Homo sapiens: one gene and its partners. The protein of the gene in region 1 interacts with the protein of each later gene in a pairwise test. Each region holds a gene or a part of one and is shown in the gene's direction. Other genes may lie near its edges.

Region 1 (7,025 bases):
CAGTGCTGTGGCATGATCTCAGCTCACTGCAACCTCCGCCTCCTGGGTTCAAGGAATTTGCTGGAATTACAGGTACCTGCCACCATGCTTGGCTAATTTTGGTATTTTTAGTAGAGACGGGGTTTCACCATGTTGGCCAGGGTGGTCTCGAACTCCTGACCTCAGGTGATCCGCCCGCCTCGGCCTCCCAAAGTGCTGGGATTACAGGTGTGAGTCACTGCTCCGGGTCATGAATTTAGTTATATGTTAAAAGTTGGGTGAAGAAAGAGTTGGGTGGGGAAAGAAGAGAAGCTTAAGGGAAGAAAGTTATGCTGCTTTGCAAATCACGTATCTGTATTCTTTACACACACACACACACACACACACACACAACATTATAAGTATTTACTTACATTCACTGTTCAACTGGGATGGTTAGAAAGCTTTACATTCTGGCCAGGTGCAGTGGCTCACACCTGTAATCCTAGCACTTTGGGAGGCCGAGGCAGGCAGATCACCTGAGGTCAGGTGTTCGAGACCAACCTGGCCAACATGGTGAAATCTTGTCTAACTAAAAATACAAAAATTAGCTGGGTGTGGTGGCACATGCCTGTAATCCCAGGTATTTGGGAGGCTGAGGCAGGATAATCGTTTGAACCCGGGAGACAGAGGTTGCAGTGAGCCAAGATCTTGCCACTGCACTCTAGCCTGGATGACAGAGAAAGATTCCGTCTCAAAAAAAAAAAAAAGAAAAGAAAAGCTTCACATTCTTTCTTAAAATGCTGTAGCAATATGTCAGCCTGTTTCTTTCAGAAGCCTTTTGTTAAAGGTTGAAGACGATTAAAAAGAACAGAACAAAATCAGATTATGTATTTTGATAGATGTGAACATATAAAAATTTTCTGAGCTTTTTTCCAAAAATTTTTGATGGCTGATGTTCATTTCCCTATTATATTTACAAGTAGTACATATTTCAAAAAGGTTGGATGAAAATTACCAATACTATAAAAAGAAGAGATACCCCAAAATGCTAGTGTTTGACAGTAGCCAGTGGGAAAACAAAAAACAAAAAAAGCCATCTTCATGAAGGAAAGTAGAACTTTACCTGTTGTCACCTCAGAATTAGGCATTGCGAAAAGTATGATTTTATGATCTCAAAGTATGTTTACTATGCATTATTTCTAGATAATTTTCCTGTCCTGTAAGCTCTGGGTCTTGACTTAATGAAATGTTTTCTGCTTAGACTAGCTGAAGTGAAACCTTTAAATTCTTATCCACTTTCCCTTCCTGATTTGGCTGTTTATACCTGTAAGAGTATCCATTTTTGCTGGGTTTCATGTTTAACATTGAAGGGTTTGGACTTTCATGCTCTGTAAGGCTGAATTAAAGCCATCCTTTTTGGTACTGCTACATTAGCATTTTTTCTCAAACTCAGCTGCCATTTACCTGAAGAACATGGTGACACAATACTGGCCAGATCGAGAACCTCCACCAGGAGAAGCAATATTTCCATTCAACATTCACGAAAACGATCGCCAGCAAATACGTGATAACATTGTGGAAGGAATAATTCGGTCTCCAGATTTAGTGAGGTATGTGGTGCTATATATTTGTGATTACTAGAAAGCATGAAATGGTTAGATCTGAGGGTGGGTGCTGTTGGATCTAATCCTTGGCCTCATGTTTCATTTTCTAAAGAGGTAAAGTAATAAAGAGGGACACTCAAAGAATATTATTTTACTTAGTGGTCTTTGCATTTGTAATTCTTTGCCTCAAGATATTTTGGAAAAGATTTTGTTGTCGTATGTTGCCACAAAAAGAGGTAAGATTTAAAAAAAATGATACTTAACCAAAACAATTGTGTAAGTCTTGCTACTTAAATGACCTTTATTCTTAGTAATGATCTCTTGAGTTTTTTTACTACCTGCTTTTCTTTTCTTTGATACAGAGAGACTGATTCTGGGAATTTTTACCTACTACCTGTCTTAATCTTTCCCTGTATTTTTATTCACATTTATGAATTGAGCATGTTTTCCTTCAGAGAAGACAGGATAGAGTAGGTATAAACTAGAAGAACTGTCTCCAGTTTTTTACAGTCATAGATTAGATGCTGTAGAGCAGTAGTGTCCCTCAGAACTTTCTGCAGTGACAGTGTTCTGTGTCAGTGCTATCTAATATTAGCCACAAGGCATCAATGACTGTTGAGCACTTGAAATGTTGCTAGTTGTAACTGAGGAACTGAATTTTTAATTCTATTTACTTTTGATTCATTTAAAGTGTGCATATTTAACTAGCAGCTGCTCTATTGGACAGAGCAGCTGTAAAGTCATAAAAATTTTGCAATCTTAAAATAGGAGAAACAAATTCTTTTCAACATACAAGATAGTAATTAGGTATCTTTTGAAAATGGGAGGGACAAATAGGTGAAAACAGAGGTAGAGGAATGAAATTTTTTAATATCAAGAGGTTGAATATAACGTTAGCCCTTAGTATCTAATAGCCATCATGACATAAGCAGTGGAAAAGGAAGGAAGTACGACGGGTAACAGGAAGGAGAACAAACATTGAACTCTTAGAGCAATTAATTTGTTAAGAGGAGAAAATAGGTGTACTGGTTAAAAAGAAAAAATCACTATTATTCTTATTGGTTGCCCAAATGCCAGTCATGGGACTGATACCCCTGTGGTACCATCATGTATCCATTTATTTTCAAAATCTTAAATTTTCAGATCTCCCTTAATCTTCGAGTGGTTCTACACAGTAATGCATGAAGGATGGCCTTTCATAACCATCCTTTGCTTGGAATGAGAAAGGACTGGGAGAATCAACCTGAAGATGAAATTTTAAAAAATGAAAAGCTTCAGTTTTATTTTTTACAAATATGACATTTATTGTTTAAAGGAGCAGCTACTACTGGCACTAAAGGAGATCTTTTATCTTTATTACGGGACGGTTCTCTGTGGCTTTGCTCCTTTTATGTCCTTAAGGCTTAATTATAATCATTGTTGAAATTTCTTCCACCTATTCTCAAAGTTTAAGAGTATTACAAAGGGATTTTTCAAATAGATTTGATAACGTGAAGAAAAGGCATCATTTTGTTTAATTTTACCAGTTTAAGTGAATCTGAGTTACTGGTTGTTCAACTGAAAATGCTTTATTTTTTTTTTAGTTGCCCTGTGGAATCCTAATTTTGCCAAGTTTGTTTTCTAACCATTTGAAAATGTCATGTAAGGTCATATTTGGTGATAACATTGAATTGATAGTTTATAGAAAAGAAATTTTTCCCCCTATTTTCTTTTCAGTTCCAGTTAAAGTTGAAATCTCATTGAGGAAATGATTACTTATCTATGTTATCAGATAACTTATTTTAGCATTTAACTTTGTGGTTTTATTAAAGGAATATTTTCTTTTTCTGTTTTATGTCTCTTCTGTTGCCTTTTTCATTTATTTCTTTGGAAATAGCTCTTAGCTCTCCTCTTCAGGAATTGCCTCGCTAATAATACATGTTTCTTTCTTATACTTGGGGTACAAAAATTAGTATCTCAGACTGCTTTGGATAGATTCAACATACGATGTTGGGTTTTAATTGATAATGGATGAGTTCAAGGTTTTGGCCCATAGAGAAGCTTCCCACCATTATGTAGGCCTTCTTTGTACTTACTTGTACCATCTTTAGACTAGGTTTATCTGTTTGAAGTGTTATTTTTTCCCCCATTCAGGATATGGTAACCAAAATATGAGATATAATAAGCTGGAAATTTTACAGAGTGGAGGTAGATTCATTGGAGTTTTTTGAAAATTTTAAACTATTTAAAACAATTTTTTTAAACTGTATTTAGGATAAGATAGTTTGAAAGGTTTCATTCATTTTAGAAACTCACCCATTCTGTTTATTTTCAACAAGTTGAGCCACTGAGGATGTTTTTTAGATATGTCTTTTTCCCCTACCCCACATATGTAAGTATATAATACACGTAAATAGAAGATAACAAACTTTTATGTAAAATATTAGAGGTCTTTGAAACACAGTATTTATAATTACTTAGATTTTGGACTTTTCTTCCCTACTTTGTAGAGTCCAATTAACAATGTGTCTCCGTGCCATCATAAAACATGATTTTCCTGGTCACTGGCCAGGAGTGGTCGACAAGATAGACTATTACTTGCAATCACAGAGCAGTGCAAGCTGGCTTGGCAGTTTATTATGCCTGTATCAACTGGTGAAGACATATGAGTAAGTTGGTTTCCATTGGCTGAAGAAAGCAGCCTTGTGTAACTTAGAAATAATGAAGTTGCAAAGAGTGGTCTGTTGTGGATGTTCTGCACAGGTTATCAGATTAGTTTGGGAAATGTTGGGTTAAACATGCTTAAATGTGTTTATTTGCTGCAGTTATTGAAAGAAACTTTAATGTGCTGATGGATATTGCTAACCTCTGAGACAGTGATATAATATGAAGCACTTCTCAAACTTGTTAGTTGCACAGTACCATTTATTAACAGCTTTCCTTGGAAACTCTGATATAGAGATACCTTTATATTTGTCTTCTAGGGAGTATATTAAGTAAACCAAAACATTTACTTTTTTGGATGCAAGATAGAAAATGTTAACGTTTCTTTGCTAATGACATTCTTTTCCATAAAAGTAGCTTGGGTAGGTAGAGGACTAATATCACACTTAATAGTATTGCTTTCTGGTTTCTAGGAAGATTGCTACATGTGTATATGAAGTCCTGTAGTTCTCCTTTTAAACTGACTAGTTCCTACTCTGCTTATGAAATTTATAGAACATATTTTAGATTTATGGCAATTAAAGCAATCTAAGAGCACCTAAATTTTAAACTATTTTAACTACTCAATTCAGGGAGAAATATAATAAGAAAATTCCCCCCATATTATTTGTTATATAGTCTATTTAAAATAGCATAGCAACTTATATTTTATAGTAAGAATTTTGGCTGGATGAAAATTAATTTAAATACTAGAAACATTCATGTAGGAAAACTGCAAAATGGTCTCGGGTTGTTTTAAACTAGTCTAAATCTTTCCAGAAAGATTTTAGGTGTTGTGCCTAAAACAGGATGTGTTATTTTAAATTTCTTTTCAACTTAATTCTAGCAATTCAAACAAACTAGAAGCCAATGTTAATGACTTTGTTTTGTTAGTTTTATGTATTTAAAAAATATTTTATAATTTATTGTTGATGGTTCTTTGGGTGGGAAAAATTACTTTTCTGTTTTTGTCTTTGCTCATGTAGATATAAGAAAGCAGAAGAGAGAGAACCTCTTATAATAGCAATGCAGATATTCCTGCCTCGTATTCAGCAACAAATTGTTCAGCTCCTTCCTGATTCCTCCTATTATTCTGTATTACTGCAGAAACAAATTCTGAAAATCTTTTATGCACTTGTTCAGGTAGGTTTCTATTGCAGAAAACAAACATGGAGTCCTGTATTTCTGCCTGACACATGGAAAGTGCTCAATAAGTGTCACTTATTATTAAAAATTATTTTGTATTATCCCATATATTTCTTTAAAAAATGCTTATGAGGAACAGGTTCACAGAAATTAATTACCCAAGATCGTCTCAATGGCATATCTGCCCCTAAGTGCTTTTCACTCCAGTGTCTGAAATCATGGGTAAAGCAGAACCAGGGTAGGTAAACCTACCTGCTCTAAAACCTGATTACTCGCAACTATCTGTTCTGTAGCATTCCTGCCTATAGATTAGTTATGATTACAAGAGAAGAAGAAGGAAAAGAAGAAGGAAAAGAAGAAGGAAAAGAAGAAGGGAGTCCCTCTTCTATTGGGAAATCATATTGATGGTAGTTTCTTTGCATTTGACTCAAAGCTAACAGAGGATTTAGGGTTCATTTTCCTTGGTTTAAAATACTGCCTAAAAAAAAAAAATCTGAATGCTATAAGGGATACCAACATGGGAATCCGGAAAGAAATGAGAAGATAGAGATGGAATATGTTTGAAATATAAAAATATTTAACATCAAATCCTTGAAAGATTTGGGTAAATTATTTAGGTCTGATTGGAGGAAGAATAATTGTTTTCAGTCTTAACTGTTTGATGAATGAATTAAACTCTATTACATGCTTTCTAGTTGAATTTGTCGTGAGAAGAGGATGGTTTTGTTGAGCTCAAAAACCATGATAGTTTGGATCCATCCTTGGCTTTTTATTGACTTAGATACTTAAACTATTTCAAAATATTTTACTTTAATAAAGATTTATATTTTTATTAAAGCTTCCCCTTTTAAACTTTTAATAGGGATAGTCTGAGGCAGATATTTTTTTTTTTCCCCCAGAGCAGCCTTTTTGCAGGGAAAGAGAAGAGGGAAGGAGGCAAATGTGAGAAGAGAAGAAACTAGAATACTAGGAAAATATGTTCTCTCACTTGTTTTGAAATAATATTCAGAGGCCAGACTTCCTTTTTCTATTGGCAGAAACAGCTAGAAATTGGGAAGTAAGACAAAGGCTAATGAAATAATTTTTCTAAAGCCTCTACCTCTAATTGGTTTGCTAAGACGACAGAATCTTCATATTTTTCTCAGTCTATACTTGCTAAAAACCTGGAAAACCTCAACATTTTTAACCATTTTGGTAATCTGTTATGTACTAATACATTAATATTCTCCTCTGGGAAGTAGAAATTTAGAAGGCATTAGGAGCCACTATTACAATGCTGACATAAGTAAAAAGCGATAATATGAGAAGGAGCAGACAATTTTGTTTTTAAAAGTATGAGCAGCCGGGTGCAGTGGGTCAGGTCTGTAATCCCAGCACGTTGGGAGGCCAAGGTGGGTGGGTCACCTGAGGTCTGGAGTTCAAGACCAGCCTGGCCAACATGGTGAAACCCCATCTCTAGAAAAATACAAAAATTAGCCAGAAATGATGGCGGGTGCCTCTAATTCCAGCTATTCCAGAGGCTGAGGTGAGAGAATTGCTCAAACCCAGGAGGCGGAGGTTGCAGTGATCTGAGATTGCACCATTGCACTGCAGCCTGGGTGACAGAGCGAGACTCCGCCTCAAATAAAATAA
Region 2 (7,543 bases), on another chromosome or scaffold:
GTGCAGAATAATTTTTTTTCCCTCTCTCGTGGTTTTTCTTTTCCCCATTTTTTTCCCCTGTTGTTTGCAAAGTTGAATCTGGGGTCAGGAGTTCTAATTGTAACCTCAGACTGGAATTCCAGATGGTGCGCTCAGGACTGGAAGCAACTCTCAGTTCATCAATTTCATGGGCCTACGTATCTGCTCTGGCCACGGCCTGGCCTCCATCCCCACTGTGGCATTAATGCAGAACAAATTGAGACATATCCTCTATATAATTAGTTCCAGAATTTAAAAAGATTTACGGTATAATAATAGAGGCAGTGCCGCGGAATCCTTTCACTGAGGACTCTCGGGGAGCTCGGGGACCATCTCGCGGTGGCATCAGAACAGACGAGTAACCCCAGCGGCTCCAGGCACTGCGAACTGGGGGAGAGGGGGAAATTTTGCACCGCATTCGGCAGTACCTAACGGTTCCGGGCTCCCAGATAGGGTCAGCGAGGAGAGTTAGGACAGTAAGTGGGGACTGGTTAAAAAAAATCGACTTAATTTTGAAATGATCAGAAGAAGCTGGGAGTAGTTATCACAAAGCCCCTCCCTTGCCCCCCCCTTTTTTTAATTGAAGGAATGACGTTGAAATTTTCACCGCCAGCGCGGGGCTGGGAACCATCCTAAACACTTGCCCTGCAGCCCCGAGTGGGCAGATTCCGAAGAGTTGGAGTCGGCGGGGAGGGGAGGAACAGCTGTTGGGCTGTCTTGCGCGTGGGGCTCGGGGCGCGGGCCCCGGGGAGAGGCGCTAGTCGAAAGCTTGTTCCTCTCCCGCGACAGGCAGCAGCGAGGTCGAGCCACTCTTTATTACGGCCTGCGGGCCCCGCGCGCAGTGTGGCTGTCCCCGCCCTTGACCGACCGCAGCGCTTTGGGGTGTTTATTCAGTTGTCCGCGGCCGCTGGGTGACTCCCGGAGGGCGGCCCAGGCGTGCGCACTGGTCCCTGGGGTTGCGGCTGTAGCAGCCCAGCTCCGCGCTCTGTCAGATGCAGTGGACAGCGCCGGGGTGAAAGTAAGGGTTGAGAAATCCTCACTGCCCTGCTCCTACCCAGCCTCGATTTTTTCATATTGCAATAATTATGCACCTTCGAGGCCGGGATGCCTGCGCTTTGCCAGTGTATCAACGCCACATGGTTTTCCAGGGGCTGTCCTCGCCTCTGCATCCCATTAGCTCTGAAGAGGTAGAGGGGTGGTGGGTAAAACCTCCAACTGGACGTTGAGAGACCCGGGTTTCAGCTCGGCGTTGCCACTAACTTGTTTCCTGTCCTTAAACAGTAGTAGTAACAAAAACTGTAAAGTTGATTGAGTCAAAGGCCCACACTGCTCTCCTATCTAATCCTCAGAACAACTCTATGAGGTGGGCGCTAGTATCCCATTATCCCGTTTGACCAGTAAGGAAACTGAGGCTCAGAGAGACTGCGGAACTCGTCTAGGGTCACACAGCTGTTGGTTACCTGGCAGAGCTGAGGTTCCATTCTGGGGCCACCAACCCCTTGCTCTTTACCGCTGCGCTCCATAGACTGCCTCTCCTTCGGCTGTCTGGGCCTCAGTTTCCTTCTCTGTAAAACGAGAAGTTTAATCTGCAGCTTTCTTTGCCAATCGGTGGTTCAGACCAGGAACCTCTGCTACAGATCTCGGCGCTGACAGGGGTAAGAAGGTGGGTGAAAGAAGGGGGCGCCCAGTTTTCCACAGCCTGCTTTTCTCTGGGACCTCGCGAAGGGCGGGCCTCGCGAGCTAAAGGAGGTACAGGAGAGCGCCTATCGTCCGCGGCGGGTGAAGGTGCTACCTGCCTTCGTGCTAGGCTGTGAGTCCTGGTGCTTAGCTCAGGGCGCCAAGGCCAGTGTAGCTGGCATGTCCCCCTTGGAAAACCTCAGGTCTCCCGCAGAGAACGTTACCCACAACAAAGAAGAGGACAGAGAGGCATGGAGCGCCCTGCGACTGCAGGAGTACGTCAGTTCCCCAGCGCTGGCTTAGTGTCGCCTGGGCTTCCGGGCATGTGGATCCGTTGGGGTCGTACGGAGACTTCCTGTCGGGTCCCTGGGGTCCTCCGACTGCGGCTCCTCAGCTTAGCACTTTCTTCTTGGCCCCGCAGGCTGCAGGGAACTCCTCCCACCTCTTTAGTCGGAGAAGTCCAAGTCGGGCGAGGGGGCACCCCGGGGTTCGCACCGGTGCTCTTCCCCTCCCCGCCCCCACAAGGATTCTGAGAAAATAAATGGCAGAGGAGAGAGGAGTTCTACATTTGCTTGGCTCTCCTTTCCTCCTATCCACCCCTACATCCCTCACCCCGGGGCAAAAACTTATTTTTGAAAAATGTTGGCAGAGATTTACGTGTCTTTGCCTTACCTGGGTTTCACAAACACAACGACTCACATTCAAGCCAGCCTCCCTTCAGATAACCTCCTCTCCCCCCGCTAAAAGTGCCAAGGATGGTAAAAGAAGAAACAATCTCAATCTTTTCGTTTGGAAATGAAAGTCCCCGGCTTTTCATAAAGGGCTCCTCGCCCCTCACAGTTGAGTCCTAGTTAAGAAAAACGACTTCCAAGTAGAAATAATAGGCGGGGAGAAGGAAGGGAGATACAGGGATCTGGGGGGTTCTTAGGGCAACTGGCAGTGAATTTTGTCTCGAGAGTCCTTTCTCCACTCAAAAAACCAAACGCGCGAGCCCCGCGAAAGGTTTAGGGATAGATCGTGTGGGAGAGGACTGAGCAGAGAGCGTGGGGGCAGTGTCTTGTAGAATCTTTCTTTTCTTAATAATAATTTTAAAAGCTTCTGAGTGGAGACGACGCAAAGTCAAGCAGCAAAGGTGGCCTGGGAGGCAAGCGGAGGGCTCAAGTGCCGCATCTTTACCCTCAGGGTCTCCTGCGCCTACGGGATGCGCATTCCCAAGAAGTGCGCCCTTCGAGTAAGTCCTGGGCCCGCACACACTTCGGGTCCGCAGCCAGAATTTAATGGCGACAACGTTTATGCAATGCAAGCTAAAAACCAAAGCGTAAAAAATTACTATGTCATTTATTGAAACGCCATTCTTTGTCAAACTGCAACTACTTTGCTTCACATAAGTTTGGCTGGAAAGCTTGCAGCCCCAGCCCGGGCCAGCCAGGTACAGGAGGCCGGACTGCAACCGGTTGCTTCCCTCCCGTCGCGCCTGGCCGTCCCACGCTGCGCCGTCGCTGCTGCCTCCTGGCGCCCCTGGGATTTTATACGCACCTCTGAAACACGCTCCGCTCCGGCCCCCGGTTCTTCTCCTTGCCTAGGGGTTGTTTCCCAATAGATACTGACTCCTTTAGAAGATCCAAAAACCAAACCAAAACACCCCCTACCCGCCCCAAACACCTGCTCTGGGGCGCGGGGGCTGCCAAACAGAGACTAGACGAAGGGAGTCAGATTTAGCGAAGCTCTTCGAGCTCCCAAAGATTCGAACACTAACTCGCGCCCGTGGGCCGATGGAGGTTCTCCCTACTCCACTCCTTGGTCCCCTTAACTGGCTTCCGCCTCCTGGTCAATCACTGAGCAACCAGAATGGTATCCTCGACCAGGGCCACAGGCAGTGCTCGGCGGAGTGGCTCCAGGAGTTACCCGCTCCCTGCCGGGCTTCGTATCCAAACCCTCCCCTTCACCCCTCCTCCCCAAACTGGGCGCCAGGATGCTCCGGCCGGAATATACGCAGGCTTTGGGCGTTTGCCCAAGGGTTTTCTTCCCTCCTAAACTAGCCGCTGTTTTCCCGGCTTAACCGTAGAAGAATTAGATATTCCTCACTGGAAAGGGAAACTAAGTGCTGCTGACTCCAATTTTAGGTAGGCGGCAACCGCCTTCCGCCTGGCGCAAACCTCACCAAGTAAACAACTACTAGCCGATCGAAATACGCCCGGCTTATAACTGGTGCAACTCCCGGCCACCCAACTGAGGGACGTTCGCTTTCAGTCCCGACCTCTGGAACCCACAAAGGGCCACCTCTTTCCCCAGTGACCCCAAGATCATGGCCACTCCCCTACCCGACAGTTCTAGAAGCAAGAGCCAGACTCAAGGGTGCAAAGCAAGGGTATACGCTTCTTTGAAGCTTGACTGAGTTCTTTCTGCGCTTTCCTGAAGTTCCCGCCCTCTTGGAGCCTACCTGCCCCTCCCTCCAAACCACTCTTTTAGATTAACAACCCCATCTCTACTCCCACCGCATTCGACCCTGCCCGGACTCACTGCTTACCTGAACGGACTCTCCAGTGAGACGAGGCTCCCACACTGGCGAAGGCCAAGAAGGGGAGGTGGGGGGAGGGTTGTGCCACACCGGCCAGCTGAGAGCGCGTGTTGGGTTGAAGAGGAGGGTGTCTCCGAGAGGGACGCTCCCTCGGACCCGCCCTCACCCCAGCTGCGAGGGCGCCCCCAAGGAGCAGCGCGCGCTGCCTGGCCGGGCTTGGGCTGCTGAGTGAATGGAGCGGCCGAGCCTCCTGGCTCCTCCTCTTCCCCGCGCCGCCGGCCCCTCTTATTTGAGCTTTGGGAAGCTGAGGGCAGCCAGGCAGCTGGGGTAAGGAGTTCAAGGCAGCGCCCACACCCGGGGGCTCTCCGCAACCCGACCGCCTGTCCGCTCCCCCACTTCCCGCCCTCCCTCCCACCTACTCATTCACCCACCCACCCACCCAGAGCCGGGACGGCAGCCCAGGCGCCCGGGCCCCGCCGTCTCCTCGCCGCGATCCTGGACTTCCTCTTGCTGCAGGACCCGGCTTCCACGTGTGTCCCGGAGCCGGCGTCTCAGCACACGCTCCGCTCCGGGCCTGGGTGCCTACAGCAGCCAGAGCAGCAGGGAGTCCGGGACCCGGGCGGCATCTGGGCCAAGTTAGGCGCCGCCGAGGCCAGCGCTGAACGTCTCCAGGGCCGGAGGAGCCGCGGGGCGTCCGGGTCTGAGCCGCAGCAAATGGGCTCCGACGTGCGGGACCTGAACGCGCTGCTGCCCGCCGTCCCCTCCCTGGGTGGCGGCGGCGGCTGTGCCCTGCCTGTGAGCGGCGCGGCGCAGTGGGCGCCGGTGCTGGACTTTGCGCCCCCGGGCGCTTCGGCTTACGGGTCGTTGGGCGGCCCCGCGCCGCCACCGGCTCCGCCGCCACCCCCGCCGCCGCCGCCTCACTCCTTCATCAAACAGGAGCCGAGCTGGGGCGGCGCGGAGCCGCACGAGGAGCAGTGCCTGAGCGCCTTCACTGTCCACTTTTCCGGCCAGTTCACTGGCACAGCCGGAGCCTGTCGCTACGGGCCCTTCGGTCCTCCTCCGCCCAGCCAGGCGTCATCCGGCCAGGCCAGGATGTTTCCTAACGCGCCCTACCTGCCCAGCTGCCTCGAGAGCCAGCCCGCTATTCGCAATCAGGGTAAGTAGGCCGGGGAGCGCCCCCTACGCGCGGGGCAGTGGCGCCAGGGACTCTCCGCTCTAGGACACCCCCCTCTCCTACCCCTTTTGACCGCAGCTCTTACCCAGCTGCTTCCCAAGGGCCGTGAGGATAGCGGAAGCGGCGGCTGGGGAGGAGGCCGGAGAGTGGGAGTGCACGCAGGCACTGGCCCCCGACATCCTCCAAAGCCAGGCAGAGCTAGGAGCCTGACTGTTCGCAAGAGCCGGGAGGGCGTCTGGGGCCCCTTAGAGTCCGAGAGATTCCGGGACTGCTAGTCCCCACGGGAGTGGAACCAGGAGACCGGCGCAGTGTCTGGCTCTGCCTTGGGGAGAGTTTTGTTAATTAAGGAAACGCCAAATTGTCACCAAGCGTAGCGCTTTTCAGACGTCTGGACTCTGGATTCGGAGTGGGACCAGCGCGGGGGTGAGCGCCTGTGCTGTGCTGCCTCCGCAGCGCTAAAATGTCCAGGAGCACCTCCAGCCCTTATAATACGGTGTTGGCACACACTTAGGTGCACATTAAGTATCGTAGAGAACTAGAATGAGCACATGCACCTCCAGTAACTAAATGGCTTTCTGGAACAGCGTCGTGTCCGTGGATAGCTCCCGCGTATGGTAATACAGAAGTGGATCTTCACTGGGCTTCGCTCAGGCGGCGGCCACGCAGGTTCTGGGGATGGAAGAGAACTTGACTTATCCGAGTCCAAGCTATGCGGGACCAGGTTCTACCGCAGGCAGTGGAAGGAGGCACGAGCTTTGGCCTTTCTTTCAGCGCATCTGGGGCGCCTCTTCATCTTGTAAACGCGGGGCTCAGCTGGGACAGTATTTCTTCAAGACCTGGGGTTAGAACAAGGACAGGGTTATTCGCTGTGCTTAGTCAGGATACAAGGAGGGAACTCGGCACACGATAAGTATCAGGTTGGTTTCTCATCCCGCGCCGATGCCCGCCCACCTCTCTTTCGCCTGGGCGGCGCGGACCCGAACCTGCGGAGCCCCTGTAGTTTGCCCTCTTCATTTATTTTCAGTGGATTTCCACGCTATTGAGAACCTAAGCCAGTTCGGTTTGATTCGGTAATTTAGTAAACGCTTTACTAATACAATGGCGGATGCTTTTCCTGGAGCAAAATTACTCGAGGGCCTAGGGACCGGGATGTTTTTGGAATGCGTGGGAAGCAGAGTGTATCTTTTGCAGGAGGTACCTTCGCCCAAGGCTCGGGAGAAGGGCTCTGCCCTTGTTGCCCGCCTTCACCCGCGCCTTCTAAACGCGCGTCTTCAGGCCGCTCCTACCTTAGCCTAACCAGGAGCACCCGGCCCCCGCGAAGCCTTGGAGAAATCGAAACCGCCCTTTTCTTCGGGAGAATCTGGGATCACTGTCCTGTGGAGGAACCGCAAGCAGACCCAAGGGTTGCCTCCACTCTATGCTTTTAGTTAGTGAAATTAGTGTTTTGTACTCAAGGGGCGTTGGGACAACTTACTGGTCGCTGAGGCTTGTGTTCTTTGATCAGATCGCGCCACCTTTGTTTAGCAGGCTGGTGTTACTTTTGGGGAGTTTCTAGGTCTCAGTGTCCCCGTCTATAAGAGGACAGCTGAGATGGGCAACCTGGAGATTGGGTCCGGCTTGAAGTTATACTCCATAGATGCAGAAGCGCTACCCACCACCCTCTTGGGGCTTTAAATATGGAACTCGGCAACCCATCTAAACATCTGTGACTGAGAAACAATGAATCCGAGAGCACTGTCTGCATGTGTGCTATTTGGAGGCGGTTGAGAAACCATCGAATCCATGCCCCTGGGGCACAAAATACTACTACGCCATTATCTTTTTAGTACTTCTAGGGGATTTTTGAAACCTGGGTTCTGTCGCTTCGTTTGGGTCCCTTGTCCAGCCCTTTTCAGGGCAGGTCTGGTGCCTGGGATCTTATCACATGTCGTGGGGGGTGGGACTGTGGGTTTTGCAGCCAGCAGGCATTACACTTCTGGAAAATATCTGGATTCTTCTGTAATATACAGGCGTGGCTGCCATGGAGAAAAAGTTAAAAGGGGACCAGGACTAGTAGGTGAATGTATCCTTCTTCTCCACCCTGGAGAAAAAGCCCAATGGAGAGAGGGCCCTAGATTCAAGTCATATAGCCTGGAAGCACCATCTCCAGGTTTAAG
Region 3 (6,825 bases), on another chromosome or scaffold:
GTTGTCTTTCCACTTTTTCTCTCTTTTCACTTAAGCAGATCAGGTTGGAAGAAAGAGGCCTGGTTAATGCTTATTTCTTGCTTCACAGGAAAGCCTGTGCCCATAGGCCTTGGTTTGTTTGTTCAGTGTTGATCTCTCTCTGTTGACTTCGATCAGCAATCGGAAAGCTGATTCTCAGGTTGCAGTGCCAGTCCTCTACCCCTTATTTTGTCTGGGATAAGAAATAGGATCTAAGAAAATTCAAGTCTGAGTAGCTACAAGGTCCTTTTCCAGCCTCCTCTCAAACAGTTTAGCAGATCCCCTGGCCTGTCCCTACCACCAGTTCTCATCTTTAAGGAATGCGTATTTAGGAAATGGTAGTATCCCTTAGGACTGTCTTACCCCTGTGAATAAATTACAGCCTGCTTAAAGTTTAAGGGGAAGAAACCTCTAGATTGTGTCATCCTCCTTTAAGAGTTTAAGTTTCATGTATGTTCTGGTACTTTATGTTCCAGAGGAGTATATTCTCAAAGGGTAGTTTACATACTGTGTTAGTCTGTTCTCACATTGCTATAAAGAAACACCTGAGACTAGGTAATTTATTCATTTATTTATTTTTGGGGTTTTTTTTTTTTGAGACGGAGTTTCGCTCTTGTCGCCCAGGCTGGAGTGTGATGGCACAATCTCAGCTCACTGCAACCTCCACCTCCCGGGTTCAAGTGATTCTCCTGCCTCAGCCTCCTCAGTAGCTGGGATTACAGGTGCACACCATCATACCTGGCCAATGTGTGTGTGTGTGTGTGTGTGTGTGTGTGTGTGTGTGTGTGTGTGTGTTTTAGTAGAGATGGGGTTTTGCTATGTTGGCCAGGCTAGTCTCGAACTCCTGACCTCGGGTGATTCTGCCCACCTCAGCCTCCCAAAGCGCTGGGATTACAGCCGTGAGCCACCAAGCCTGGCTGAGTCTGGGTAATTTATAAGAAAAGTTTAATTGGCTTATGGTTCTACAGGCTGTACGGGAAGCATTAGTGCCAGCATCTGCTTGTAGGGAAGCCTCAGGAGGCTTACAGTCATAGTGGAGGGCAAAAGGGGAGCAGGCATATCAAATGATAAAACCAGGAGCAAGAGAGAGTGGCAGGGGGAGGTGCTACACACTTTTAAGTGGCCAGATCTCATGAGAACTCACTCATGATAGGGAGGACAGTACCAAGAGGGAGGGTGCTAAACCATTCATAAGAAACCACTCCCATGATCCAGTCACCTCCCATAAGGCCCAACCTCCAACACTGGGGATTACATTTCAATATGAGATTTGGGTGGGGACACACATCCAAATGAAATCATATCATTCTGCCCCTGGCCCCTCCCAATCTTATGTCTTTCTCACATTTCAAAATACAATCTTGCCTTTCCACTAATCCCTAAAGTCTTAACTCGTTCCAACATTAACTCAAAAGTCCACAGTCTCATCTTAGACAAGGCAAGTCCCTTCTACCTATGAGCCTATAAAATAAAAGACAAGTTAGTTACCTCCAAGATATACTGGGGGTATAGGCATTGGGTCAACACTCCTGTTCCAAAAGGGAGAACTCTCTGCCAAAAGAAAGGGGCTATAGGCCCCATGAAAGTCCAGAAACCATCAGGGCAGTCATTAAATCTTAAAGCTTCAAAATTATTTTCTTTGACTCTGTATCTCATATCCAGGGCACTCTGCTGCGAGGGGTGGAGTCCCTAGGCCTTGGGCAGATCTGCCCACATGGCTTTGCAGTGTTCAGTCCCTGCAGTGCTCTCATGGGTTGTAGTTGAATGTCTCTGGCTTTTCCACATGCAGGGTGCAAACTGCCAGTGCATCTTACATTCTGGAGTCTGGAGGGCAGTGGCCCTCTTCTCACAGGCAGTGCCCCAGTGGGGATTCTACATGGCGGCTCCAATGCCACATTTCTCCTCTGCACTGCCCTAGTATAGGTTCTCTGTGTGGCCTCTGCCCCTGCAGCAGGCTTCTACCTGGACACCTAGGCTTTTCTATACATCCTCTGAAATCTAGATAGAGTTTCCCAAGCCTTAACTGTTCAACTGTGTATACCCACAGGCTTTATATACCATATCAAAGCTGCCAAGGCTTACAGCTTGCACCCTCTGAAGCAGCAGCCTGAGCTGTAACCTGGCCCCTTTCAGCCGTGGGTGGATCTGGAGTAGCTGGGATGCAGGGAGCAGTGTCCCAAGGCTGTGCAGGGCACCGGGCCCTGGGCCTGGCCCAGGAAACCATTCAGTCATCCTAGGCCTCTGGTGGAAGGGGCTGCTGTGAAGGTCTCTGAAATGCCTTTGAGGCCTTTTCCCCATTGTCTTGGCTTACTAGTACTTGGGTCCTTTTTACTCATGCAAATTTCTGCAGCCTGCTTGAATTCCTTCCCTGAAAATGGGCTTTTCTTTTCTACCACATGGCCAGGCTGCAAATGTTCCACTTACTCCCTTTTAAATACCAGTTCCAGTTTTAAGTCATTTCTTTGTTCTCACATCTGAGCATAGATTGTTAGCAGACAACCCACCTCTTGTGTGCTTTGCTGCTTAGAAATTTCGTCCACCAGATGCCCTCAATCACCATTCTCTCAAGTTCAAAGTTCCACAGATCCCTAGGGCAGGGGCACAGTACAGCCAAGGTCTTTGCTAAAGCATAGCAAAAATGACCTTTGCTGCAGTTCCCAGTAAGTTCCTCATTTCCATCTGAGACCTTAACCAAGACTTCACTGTCCATATCACTATCAGCATTTTGGTCATAACCATTTAACCAGTTTCTAAGATGTTCCAAACTCTCTCTTATCTTCCTATCTTCTTCTGGGTCTTCCAAACTCTTCCATCCTTTGCCTGTTACCCAGTTATTCCAAAGTCACCTCCACATTTTCAGGTATCTTTATAGAAATTCTCCACTTCCCCGTACCAATTTTCTGTATTACTCAATTCTCACATTGTTATGAAGAAATACCTCAGACTGGGTGATTTATAAGAAAAGAGGTGTAATTGGCTCACAGTTCCTGTACAAGAGGCATAGTGCCAGCATCTGCTTGACGGTGGGGGGGGGGGCTCAGGAGGCTTACAGTCATGGCAGTAGGTGAGAGGGGAGCAGGCACATCAAATGGCAAGAGCAAGAGTGAGGAGGGAGGTGTTACACACTTGTAAATAACCACATCTCACAAGAACTCACTCATGATAGGGAGGACAGTACCAAGGGGGATGGTGTTAAACCATTCATAAGAAACCACTCCCATGATCCAATCATCTCCCATAAGGCCCCACCTCCAACACTGGGGATTACATTTCAATATGAAATTTGGGTGGGGACACACATCCAAACTATACCACCTAGATTATGTTACTTACTTCCTATCATATTTCATTTTATTTACTTCCTATATCATATTTCTTTCTTTTTTTTTCCCTTTCCTTTTTTTTTTTTTTTTTTTTTTTTGAGACAGAGTCTCACTCTGTCACCCAGGCTGGAGTGCAGTGGTACTACCTCAGCTCACTGCAACCTCCACCTCCTGGGTTCAAGCAACTCTCCCATCCCAGCCTCCCAAGTAGCTAAGACTACAGGCGCCTGCCACCATGCCCAGCTAATTTTTGTGTATTTAGTAGAGATGGGATTCCACCATTTTGGCCAGGCTGGTCTTGAACTCCTGACCTCAAGTGATCCGCCTGCCTTGGCCTCTCAAAGTGCTGAGATTACGGCCATGAGCCACCACACCCGGGCTTGACCATATTTCTTAATCCTCATTTTATATCTGTGACCCTCAGAGCCAGTGAGACAAGTAACTAGTTAAGATGGTGTTAAGAGCCACGGTTTGAATCCAAGTTTGTCTGACTTTGAGTCAGCAATCTTTACATTGTGTCACACTGTGACATTTTAGGAAGATTAATTTGGTGTAGGATTCTAGGTGGCCTCGTAGGAGGAAAGAAACTTCTGGCAGGAATACCAGGTACAGTGTGCAGGGTTTCCTGATCTGCCTTTCCCAATCCCAGCTCTTCTGCATGTGTTTCCTTAGTTCCATCTTCATTATGTAGCCTACTCCAGTGGTCAGTGCCTTCACTGTCCATCCCTCCTGAATGGGCTCACTCTTTTCTCTGCTTATGCAGTACATCTGCCATCCCCTGCTTTCAGTTCCCCTGTTATCTTTGGATCAGTTCACTGTTGTTTCTCTCCCTTCCTATTTCTCTACCTAATTTTGGGTACATGTTTGAAAGCTCTCAAATGTGCTCAGCAGTTATTTTAGTTGATAGCTAGTTTAATTCTCTCATTCCTACCTTATGCAGTTTCCAGTCTCCTAGCACAGAAACCAATGTGCATTTGAATTTTTTTTTTTTTTCAGACTGGGAGACAAGACTTGAAACCAAAGAGCCAACTCCGAAGCCGGGTATTACTGAAGATTTATGCCATGGGGTAACAATGGAAAGGGAAGGTATCTGGCATTCTACTCTAGGGGAAACCTGGGAACCTAATAATTGGTTAGAGGGACAACAGGATAGTCATCTGAGCCAAGTGGGAGTTACCCATAAGGAAACCTTCACTGAGATGAGAGTATGTGGAGGTAATGAATTTGAAAGATGTTCCAGTCAGGATTCAATCCTTGATACACAGCAAAGCATTCCTATGGTAAAAAGGCCCCATAACTGTAATTCACATGGAGAAGATGCCACACAAAATTCTGAGTTAATTAAAACTCAAAGAATGTTTGTAGGAAAGAAGATCTATGAATGTAATCAGTGCAGCAAAACCTTCAGTCAGAGCTCATCCCTTCTTAAGCACCAGAGGATTCATACTGGGGAGAAACCCTATAAGTGTAATGTATGTGGGAAACACTTCATTGAACGATCCTCCCTTACTGTACATCAAAGAATTCATACTGGAGAGAAACCCTATAAATGTAATGAATGTGGGAAAGCCTTTAGTCAGAGCATGAATCTTACTGTCCATCAACGAACTCACACCGGAGAGAAACCCTATCAGTGTAAAGAGTGTGGCAAAGCCTTCCATAAGAATTCATCTCTTATTCAGCATGAAAGGATTCATACTGGAGAGAAACCCTACAAATGTAATGAATGTGGTAAAGCTTTTACCCAAAGCATGAATTTGACAGTTCATCAGAGAACTCATACAGGAGAAAAACCCTATGAATGTAATGAATGTGGAAAAGCCTTCAGTCAAAGCATGCATCTTATTGTACATCAGAGAAGCCATACTGGAGAAAAACCCTATGAGTGTAGTCAATGTGGAAAAGCCTTTAGTAAGAGCTCAACTCTTACCCTACATCAGCGAAATCACACTGGAGAAAAACCTTACAAATGTAACAAATGCGGGAAATCCTTTAGCCAAAGTACATATCTTATAGAACATCAGAGACTTCATTCTGGAGTAAAACCTTTTGAATGTAACGAGTGTGGAAAAGCTTTCAGTAAGAATTCATCTCTAACTCAACATCGGAGAATTCACACTGGAGAGAAACCTTATGAGTGTATGGTGTGTGGAAAACATTTCACTGGACGATCATCCCTTACCGTGCATCAGGTCATTCACACTGGAGAGAAACCTTATGAGTGCAATGAATGTGGAAAGGCATTCAGCCAGAGTGCTTACCTTATTGAACATCAAAGAATTCATACTGGTGAGAAACCCTATGAATGTGATCAGTGTGGAAAAGCCTTCATTAAGAATTCATCCCTTACAGTGCATCAGAGAACTCATACAGGAGAGAAACCCTATCAGTGTAATGAATGCGGAAAAGCCTTCAGCCGGAGTACAAACCTTACACGACATCAAAGAACTCATACGTGAGGAATGTTTTCACTGGCCCTTACCTCATGATTAACTCTTCAGTAATAATCATATGAGACATACAATGTAGAAACCTAATAAATGTAATGATTGTGGGAATCTTTCAGTTGAAGTACAATATGTCATATCAGATAATACCACTGCAGAGAATCCATCTAAAAGTAGAGAAATCTTGATTCAGAATGTATAATTTCCTTTATATCAGAAGGTTTAAATAGCTAATATAAACAATGAAGAGTCATGCTGAAGATAAGTTCTGTTATATCATACCGCACATTCTCCTTTGGCTATCAGAGACTTTACACTGGAGAGAAAAATGTGAGAGTGTTTAACTGGACAGCCCAGAGACCTGGTATGTAGTCCTAATCTGCCACTGCCTTGGACAACTTGCCTACTTCCACCAGGTTATGGTTCTTTATTTGGTAAATGAATGATTTTGGAGTTAGAAATCTTGTAGGAGCTCTGTTAGCTCTAAAATGCTACAACTCTATAAATATAATGAATGCTGGGAAATCTTTGTTCTTTTACGATCTTATGCTGTCTGTATGCAGTCTAGATGCTCTTGTTCCACAATCTGGTTTCCTTGGATCCTTTTAGTCAAAATGATTTACCTTTACGAATTCCTAGTACCCTTCCATGCCCCTAATCTTCCCCTGCATTGTTATTTTGTCCCCTAACTACAGGCTGGTTTCCATAAATTAATGGAATAAGTATGCAAATGTTTTCATTTATTTATTTATTTATTTATTTTGAGATGGAGTTTCGCTCTTTTGCCCAGGCTGGAGTGCAGTGGCTTGATCTCAGCTCACTGCAAGCTCCACCTCCTGGGTTCATGCCATTCTCCTGCCTCAGCATCCCAAGTAGCTGGGACTACAGGCGCCTGCCACCATGCCTGGCTAATTTTTTTGTATTTTTAATAGAGATGGGGTTTCACCATGTTAGCCAGGATGGTCTCAATCTCCTGACCTCGTGATCCACCCACCTCGGCCTCCCAAAGTGCTGGGATTACAGGCATGAGCCCCCGT
Region 4 (7,025 bases), on another chromosome or scaffold:
CGCACCTGGCCTGATCCATGATACTCTTCACCTTTCCCAGATATGTCACGGTTATGTGTTTGTGTTGGGAAGCCAAGACAGAGGAGCCAAAAGGTCATATTACATCACTATGGGGACCCCAGATGCACCTCGTTTTAATCTCTTTTTTTCCACCCCTAGCTCTAGCCTCTCGGAATTTGTCTTCTTCAGTGGAAACCCCGAGAAGACTGATCAGTTCTTCAGTTCTAAAACAATGGCCCAGGTAAGTGTATATTTCTCTTTCCTTCTTGAGCTATGATATTTGCGTTCTGTGCATCTGCTTGTGAATTATCTGAAGCCTTTTATCTAGTCAAGCTCTTTATAATTACCTGTTTCCCAGCTCTTTCTATTCCAGTGAATGATAATGCCACGTAGCTCCGTGTCTGCCTTTTTGGGAAATCACTGAGCAGGTGATTAAGTATCTCCTGTTTGCTCCCTTTTTTGGCAAGGGTAATTTTGGAGCAGTGAAGTAGCAAAGTCCTTTGAGGGAAATATTTAAGTCAAGTCTGTGGTTTGATGAGTTAGATATGTTGGTCCCATCTGACCACATGAGAAACAGATCCTCCACTGATCATGTTTTCTGCGTAGATAAGAGGGAATGCTCATATTCGCCGGTCTGTCTTAGTATGTGCTCAGATCCCAAGCTTTATGGGACTTTTGGAAAGGGATGGGGCTGTGATTAGGACCTTTGAACAGAGGTCATGTTCCTGCCGGGAAACTGGAGGATAAATTTTATTATTGAATGGATCTCTCAGACCACAAGATGATTCTAAGTCATCTGACATCCTTATCCTCTAAATCAGAAACAGGGGGCCGGGTGTGGTGGCTCACACCTGTAATCCCAGCACTTTGGGAGGCCCAGGTGGGTGGATCACTTGTGGTCAGGAGTTCAAAACCAACCTGACCAACATGGTAAAACCTCATCTGTACTAAAAATACCAAAATTAGCAGGCTATGGTGGCATGTGTCCATAATCCCAGCTACTTGGTAGGCTGAGGCAGGAGAATTGCTTGAACCCAGGAGATGGAGGTTGCAGTGAGCCAAGATCATGCCACTGCACTCCAGCCTGGGCAACAGAGCAAGACTCTGTCTCAAAAAAAAAAAAAAAAAAAAATCAGGAACGGGGGAAAGGCAGGGTTATGGATGGTAATAAATATGAAGATCTTCCAGTATGGAAGTAGGAGATGATCACATACCCCAGAATCGGAGAAAGCCTTAGGTGTTTTGGGCAACCTAAGTGAATAACTGTAATAAACAGTCTGACTTACCTGTGTGGGAATTTTTTAAATGCTTAAAAGGAAGACTGCTTAAAATGTAGTTTGGCATGATGAACTGGAGGCTTGAAAACATTCAAACATGCAAACCGTATTTTCTTTTTTTTTTTCTTGGGACGGAGTTTCACTCTTGTTGCCCAGGCTGGAGTGCAGTGGTGCCATCTTGGCTCACCTCAACCTCTGCCTCGCGGGTTCAAGTAATTCTCCTGCCTCAGCCTCCTGAGTAGCTGGGATTACAGGGATGCGCCGCCACACCCAGCTAATTTTGTATTTTAAGTAGAGACGAGGTTTCTGCATGTTGGTCAACCTGGTCTCGAACCCCCAACCTCAGGTGATCCGCCTGCCTCAGCCTCCCAAAGTGCTGGGATTACAGGCATGAGCCACCACACCCAGCAAACCCTATCTTCTTTTCTTTTCTTTTCTTTTCTTTTTTTTTTTGAGACAGAGTCTCGCTCTGTCGCCCAGGCTGGAGTGCAGTGCCACAATCTCCGCTCACTGCAAGCTCTGACCACCCCGGGTTCATGCCATTCTCCTGCCTCAGCCTCCCGAGTAGCTGGGACTACAGGCGCCCACCATCACGCCCGGCTAATTTTTTTGTATTTTTAGTAGAGATGGGGTTTCACCATGTTTGCCAGGATGGTCTCGATCTCCTGACCTCGTGATCCGCCTGCCTTGTTCTCGTGATCCGCCTGCCTTGGCCTCCCAAAGTGTTGGGATTACAGGCGTGAGCCCCCCGCCCAGCCCCAGCAAACCCTATTTTCTAAAATAAAAGTTCTTAAACAGAAATCTTGATTTTTCTTCCCCCCTTAAAAGAAAAAATGCTGTAGGAATCCACACTTGTTGAGAACTTATAAGGCAGGCACGTAGCAGACACTGCTTGTAAGCAAGAAGAAAACTTGGATTGTTTTATCCACTTCCTGGCAGGTTTGACTAACTGAGGATTCTGCACAGTAAAGTCATTTTCTCTGCAGCGGTAGAGCTCTTCAGTGACATGCAGGCATTCTGCTTCCGTCACAGTTACAGTGATGTCCTTACCGCCCCTTGCCGATGTCACGGGTGTTCAGTCTGCTCACGGTGTTCACCCTACCCAGAGGGTGGCCTCCTGTCTCCTTCATCTGGAAGCTGTTTCCTTTCATTTCATCATGCACGTGTGGGTTTCTGTTTCAGGGTTTGGTGACGTTCGCCGACGTAGCCATAGACTTTTCTCAGGAGGAGTGGGCCTGTCTGAACTCTGCTCAGAGGGACCTGTACTGGGACGTGATGCTGGAGAACTACAGTAACTTGGTCTCACTGGGTGAGTTGCACGCCTCAGATAACTTAGACTGCCTCCTGGAATATCCGCTCTCCCCTGTGAATTTCAGGACCGCCTTTCAAGAAACTAGTTGAATTTCTTCTTCCTGTCCCCAAGGAATGTATTGAGCCTTATTGATGTGGCCGTGAGCACCACAACCTTCCCCTCCCATCCATCGGTTACCTTCCCACCTTTGTCGACTCCCCCGTAATCATCTCACTTCCTTAATGTCCGTGGAATGAGTGGGAATTCTGGGATATTTATTTCATGACCATCTTCAAAGGAGCCAGTTTGTCCTGTGAGAGTATGTTTATACCCAAATTGCTATTGGTGGTCGGTGTTACTCTAGGGACCCACGTCTAGGGAAAACATGTGGACACAGTGCCCTGAATTGTTCTAGTAAACCAGCCTATGTGTTTGAAGTACAGTAGATCAGACAAACAGAATTTGTGTAAAACCAAAGTGGGCGTATTTCATTTCTTACATACCATACCTGAAGTGAGGTTGAAAGTTACAATCCCCGAACTGTGAGTTAAACATTGAATGACAATATCTTGCAAACATCCCTGGAAACTTATTTTTCTTCTAGCAAAAATAACAACAATGATATTAATGGCTAAGCTGTCTGTGGTGACCCTGCCTGTAATCCCAGCTACTCGGGAGACTGAGGCAGGAGGATCACTTGAGCCCAGGAGTTGAAGGCTATAGTTAGCTATGATCATACCACTGTACTCCAGGCTGGGTAACAGATCAAGACCCCATCGCTAAAACAATAAACAAATAGGAATATATATATTTTATATATATACACACACATATATATTATATATACACACACATATATATTATATATACACATATATATTATATATACACATATATATTATATATACACATATATACATATACAATATATACATATATAGTATATATTATATATATAAACTGCTTACTGTGTGCCATGCACTGTGCTAAGCACTGTGTGTGTAAGTACATTGCATTTCGTTCTCACAGGCAGATGAGACAGGCACAATCATTGTCTATTTTGGAGATGAGGATACTGAAACACAGTGATGCAGTCAGACGGAGGGAGCAGGAGCTAGAATCAGATTTAACAGTTTTGGTCCCCAGATTCCTTGCTGCCAGCCACCATGTTCCACTTGCCTCCAGGCATAATGCCTACAGAAATTTAAAATATGACCTTTTCTCGGCCAGGCGCAGTGGCTCACGCCTGTAATCCCAGCACTTTGGGAGGCTGAGGTGGGCGGATCACTGGAGGTCAGGAGTTAGAGACCAGCCTGGCCAACATGGTGAAACCCTGTCTCTACTAAAAATATAAAAATTAGCCGGGCATGGTGGCGCACGCCTGTGATCTCAGCTACTCCGGAGGCTGGTGCAGGAGAATCATTTGAACCTGGGAAGCAGAGGTTGCAGTGAGCCAAGATCACGCTACTGTGCTGCAGCCTGGGCAACAAAGCGAGACTCTGTCTCAAAAATAATAAAAAATAAGGCCGGGTGCGGTGGCTCACTCCTGTGATCACAAGACTGGCAGGCCAAGGCAGACGGATCACGAAGATAGGAGTTCGAGACCAGCTTGGCCAACAGAGTGAAACCCCATCTCTCCTGAAAATACAAAAATTTGCCGGGTGTGGTGGCGCATGCCTGTAATTCCAGCTACTTGGGAGGCTGAGGCAGGAGAATCACTTGAACCCGGGAGGTAGAGGTATAGCATTTCTTTTTTTTTTTAAGTTGAGATTTTTTTCTTTTTTTCACTCTGTTACTCAGGCTGGAGTGCAGTGGCGCGATCACAGCTCACAGCAGCCTCAACCTCCTGGGCTCAAGCAATCTTCCTGCCTCATCTCCCTGAGTAGCAGGGACCACAGGTGCACACCACGACACCCGGCTAATTGTTGTGTTTTTTCTTAGAGATGGGATTTCGCCATGTTGTCCAAGCTGATCTTGAACTCCTGGGCTAAAGGAATCCACCCACCTCAGCCTTCCAAAGAGGCTGGATTACAGGCGTGAGCCACTGCACCTGGCTCAATAGCATTTTGACTTCTGGTTGTTATAAATTTGATTAATACTCAATCAAAAAAAATTTAAGGCCAGGCATGGTGGTTCACGCCTATAATCCCAGCACTTTGGGAGTCCAAGGCGGGCAGATCACCTGAAGTCAGGACTTCAAGACCAGCCTGGCCAACATGGTGAAAACCCGTCTCTACTAAAAACACAAAAATTAGCCGGTGTGCTGGTGTGCGCCTGTAATCCCAGCTACCCAGGAGACTGAGTGAGGCAGGAGAATTGCTGGGACCTGGGAGGCAGAGGCTGCAGTGAGTCAAGATCATGCCACTGCACTCCAGCCTGGGCAACAGAGCAAGACTCCCTCTCAAAAAATAAAAATAATTTTTAAAGAATTTTTGAAGTTTTGAGCTTGAAATTTTTCCTCAAGTTCTATGTCCTCTAGCATTTCGTTTTTTTAAAGGAGGGCATATAATTTCTAAGCCAGAGGTACTGTCTTATAGAATTAAGGGAAAGAGCCTTGATGGTTGTGAGGGAAGAGACAAGACAACAATACGGAGGAAAGTGGGAGCCAGTCAGCCACCCGTACAAAGAGCATCCCCACAGGGCAGGGAACAGGCACACCCTGAGGTGTTGGAGAGCTTTCTCCAAGAGCTCAGGCCCAAAGCCTCTAGGAAAGAAAGATCTTACCACGAACTTGATCTTCACCCCATTTCCCTGTCACCTTGTTTTTCCTGTCATATTTAACCCCATTTTATGTGCTGCTGGTGCTGCTGGTCTGTGGGCCACGCCTTTAGTAGCGGGTAGAGGTGACAGGGTCCTCTGCCCTTTATCATTCCTGAAAGTGGGTTAGCCTCGCTTTAAGTGCCCGTTTTCTTTTTCTCATATCTAGGTGTTGGCAGTACTGCTTCCCGGGTGTTGTTAATGTGTCACCACCATGAAGCACCTGGTGTCTGGTTGTAGCTCCTCTTTGCCATTGGCAGTCATTGGCACTGCTTACATTCATCACACTGGGGGCTCAAATGGTGCGCGCCTATCACTGCCCCTTCATTTATCAGCTGTTATAATTTAAAGAGAAACTTTGTTTCATCTGCTAATTGCTCATGCAGTGGCACTGTTCATATTGGATAAGAAGGATAAAAACTTTGTTCTTTTTCTTTGTCAGTTTTTATGTTGTATTTTTTTCTTTTCTTTTTTTTTTTTTTTTTTGAGGCAGGGTCTTACTCTGATTCCCAGGCTGGAGTGCAGTAGTGCAGTCTGGGCTCACTGCAGCCTTGACTTCCGGGCTCAAGCCATCCTCCCACCTCAGCCTCCCAAGTAGCTGGGACTATAGGTGTACACCACCACACCTGGCTAATTTTTGTATTTTTTTTGTAGAGACAGGGTTTTGCTATGTTTCCCAGGCTGGTTTTGAACTCCTGAGCTCAAGTAATCCACCCACCTCGGTCTCCCAAAGTGCTGGGATTACAGGCGTGAGCCACTGCACCTAGCCAATTGCCAGTTTTTATAATAAAGGTCTGGTTTCCTAGCGTGTTCCAGAGCTGGCCATTTAACATTTTGTAGTATCATTATGAACTTATAGATTTAAACGTTTGCTGTTTCTCAGTCCTTTGCAGTTAGCCTCCTTATTGATGCTCAAGTTCTAAACTTTTCCTTATTGTTCTTCTAAACTTTTTCACATTTTTTATTAAATTTAGTCTCGTAAATTATCTTTTTTGTTGCTTTTGAATGTTGTATTCTTTTACCCAGTTGCTTTTTTTTTTTTTTTTTTTTTTGAGACGGAGTCTTATTCAGTCGGCTCACTGCAACCTCCACCTCCCGGGTTCAAGCGATTCTCCTGCCTCAGCCTCCCAAGTAGCTGGGATTATAGGCTCACACCACCATGCCTGGCTAATTTTTGCGTTTTTAGTACAGACAGGGTTTGTTTGTTTTTGTTTTTTGTTTTTTGTTTTTTTGATATGGAGTCTAGCTCTGTCACCCAGGCTGGAGTGCAGTGGCACAATCTCGGCTCACCGCAACTTCTGCCTCCCGGGTTCAAGCGATTCTCCTGCCTCAGCCTCCGGAGTAGCTGGGATTACAGGCACCCACCACCATGCCCAGCTAATGTTTGTATTTTTAGTAGAGACAGGATTTCACCGTGTTGGCCAGGCTGGTCTCGAACTCCTGACTTCATGATCTGCCCACCTCGGCCTCCCAAAGTGCTGGGATTACAAGCGTGAGCCACCGTGCCCAGTCTGTTTTTTTGTTTTTGTTTTGAGACAGAGTTTCATGCTTGTTGCCCAGGCTACAGTGCAATGGCATGATCTCGGCTCACTGCAACCTCTGCTTCCCAGGTTCAAGCAATTTCCCTGCCTCAGCCTCCCGAGTAGCTGGGATTACAGTCATGCGCCACCATGTCCGGCTAATTTTGTATTTTTAGTAGA

The links.
Region 2: the proteins of IPO8 (region 1) and WT1 interact in binary tests that used the Homo sapiens proteins (3 or more experiments, as listed by UniProt).
Region 3: the proteins of IPO8 (region 1) and ZFP2 interact in binary tests that used the Homo sapiens proteins (3 or more experiments, as listed by UniProt).
Region 4: the proteins of IPO8 (region 1) and ZNF331 interact in binary tests that used the Homo sapiens proteins (3 or more experiments, as listed by UniProt).

Annotation. Positions count from the first base shown.
Region 1 is NC_000012.12:30,678,847-30,685,871, reverse strand, and holds part of IPO8 (importin-8), read left to right. Parts: exon of another isoform or gene 1-72; intron 73-1,414; coding exon 1,415-1,571; intron 1,572-4,054; coding exon 4,055-4,213; intron 4,214-5,233; coding exon 5,234-5,390; intron 5,391-7,025. UniProt on the Homo sapiens protein: Involved in nuclear protein import, either by acting as autonomous nuclear transport receptor or as an adapter-like protein in association with the importin-beta subunit KPNB1.
Region 2 is NC_000011.10:32,432,526-32,440,068, reverse strand, and holds the start of WT1 (Wilms tumor protein), read left to right. Parts: upstream 1-4,529; 5' UTR 4,530-4,708; coding exon 4,709-5,369; intron 5,370-6,028; exon of another isoform or gene 6,029-6,304; intron 6,305-7,543. UniProt on the Homo sapiens protein: Transcription factor that plays an important role in cellular development and cell survival. Recognizes and binds to the DNA sequence 5'-GCG(T/G)GGGCG-3'. Regulates the expression of numerous target genes, including EPO.
Region 3 is NC_000005.10:178,926,900-178,933,724, forward strand, and holds the end of ZFP2 (zinc finger protein ZFP2), read left to right. Parts: intron 1-4,337; 5' UTR 4,338-4,414; coding exon 4,415-5,800; 3' UTR 5,801-6,313; downstream 6,314-6,825. UniProt on the Homo sapiens protein: Probable transcription factor involved in neuronal differentiation and/or phenotypic maintenance.
Region 4 is NC_000019.10:53,569,145-53,576,169, forward strand, and holds part of ZNF331 (zinc finger protein 331), read left to right. Parts: intron 1-159; 5' UTR 160-232; coding exon 233-241; intron 242-2,459; coding exon 2,460-2,586; intron 2,587-7,025. UniProt on the Homo sapiens protein: May be involved in transcriptional regulation. May play a role in spermatogenesis.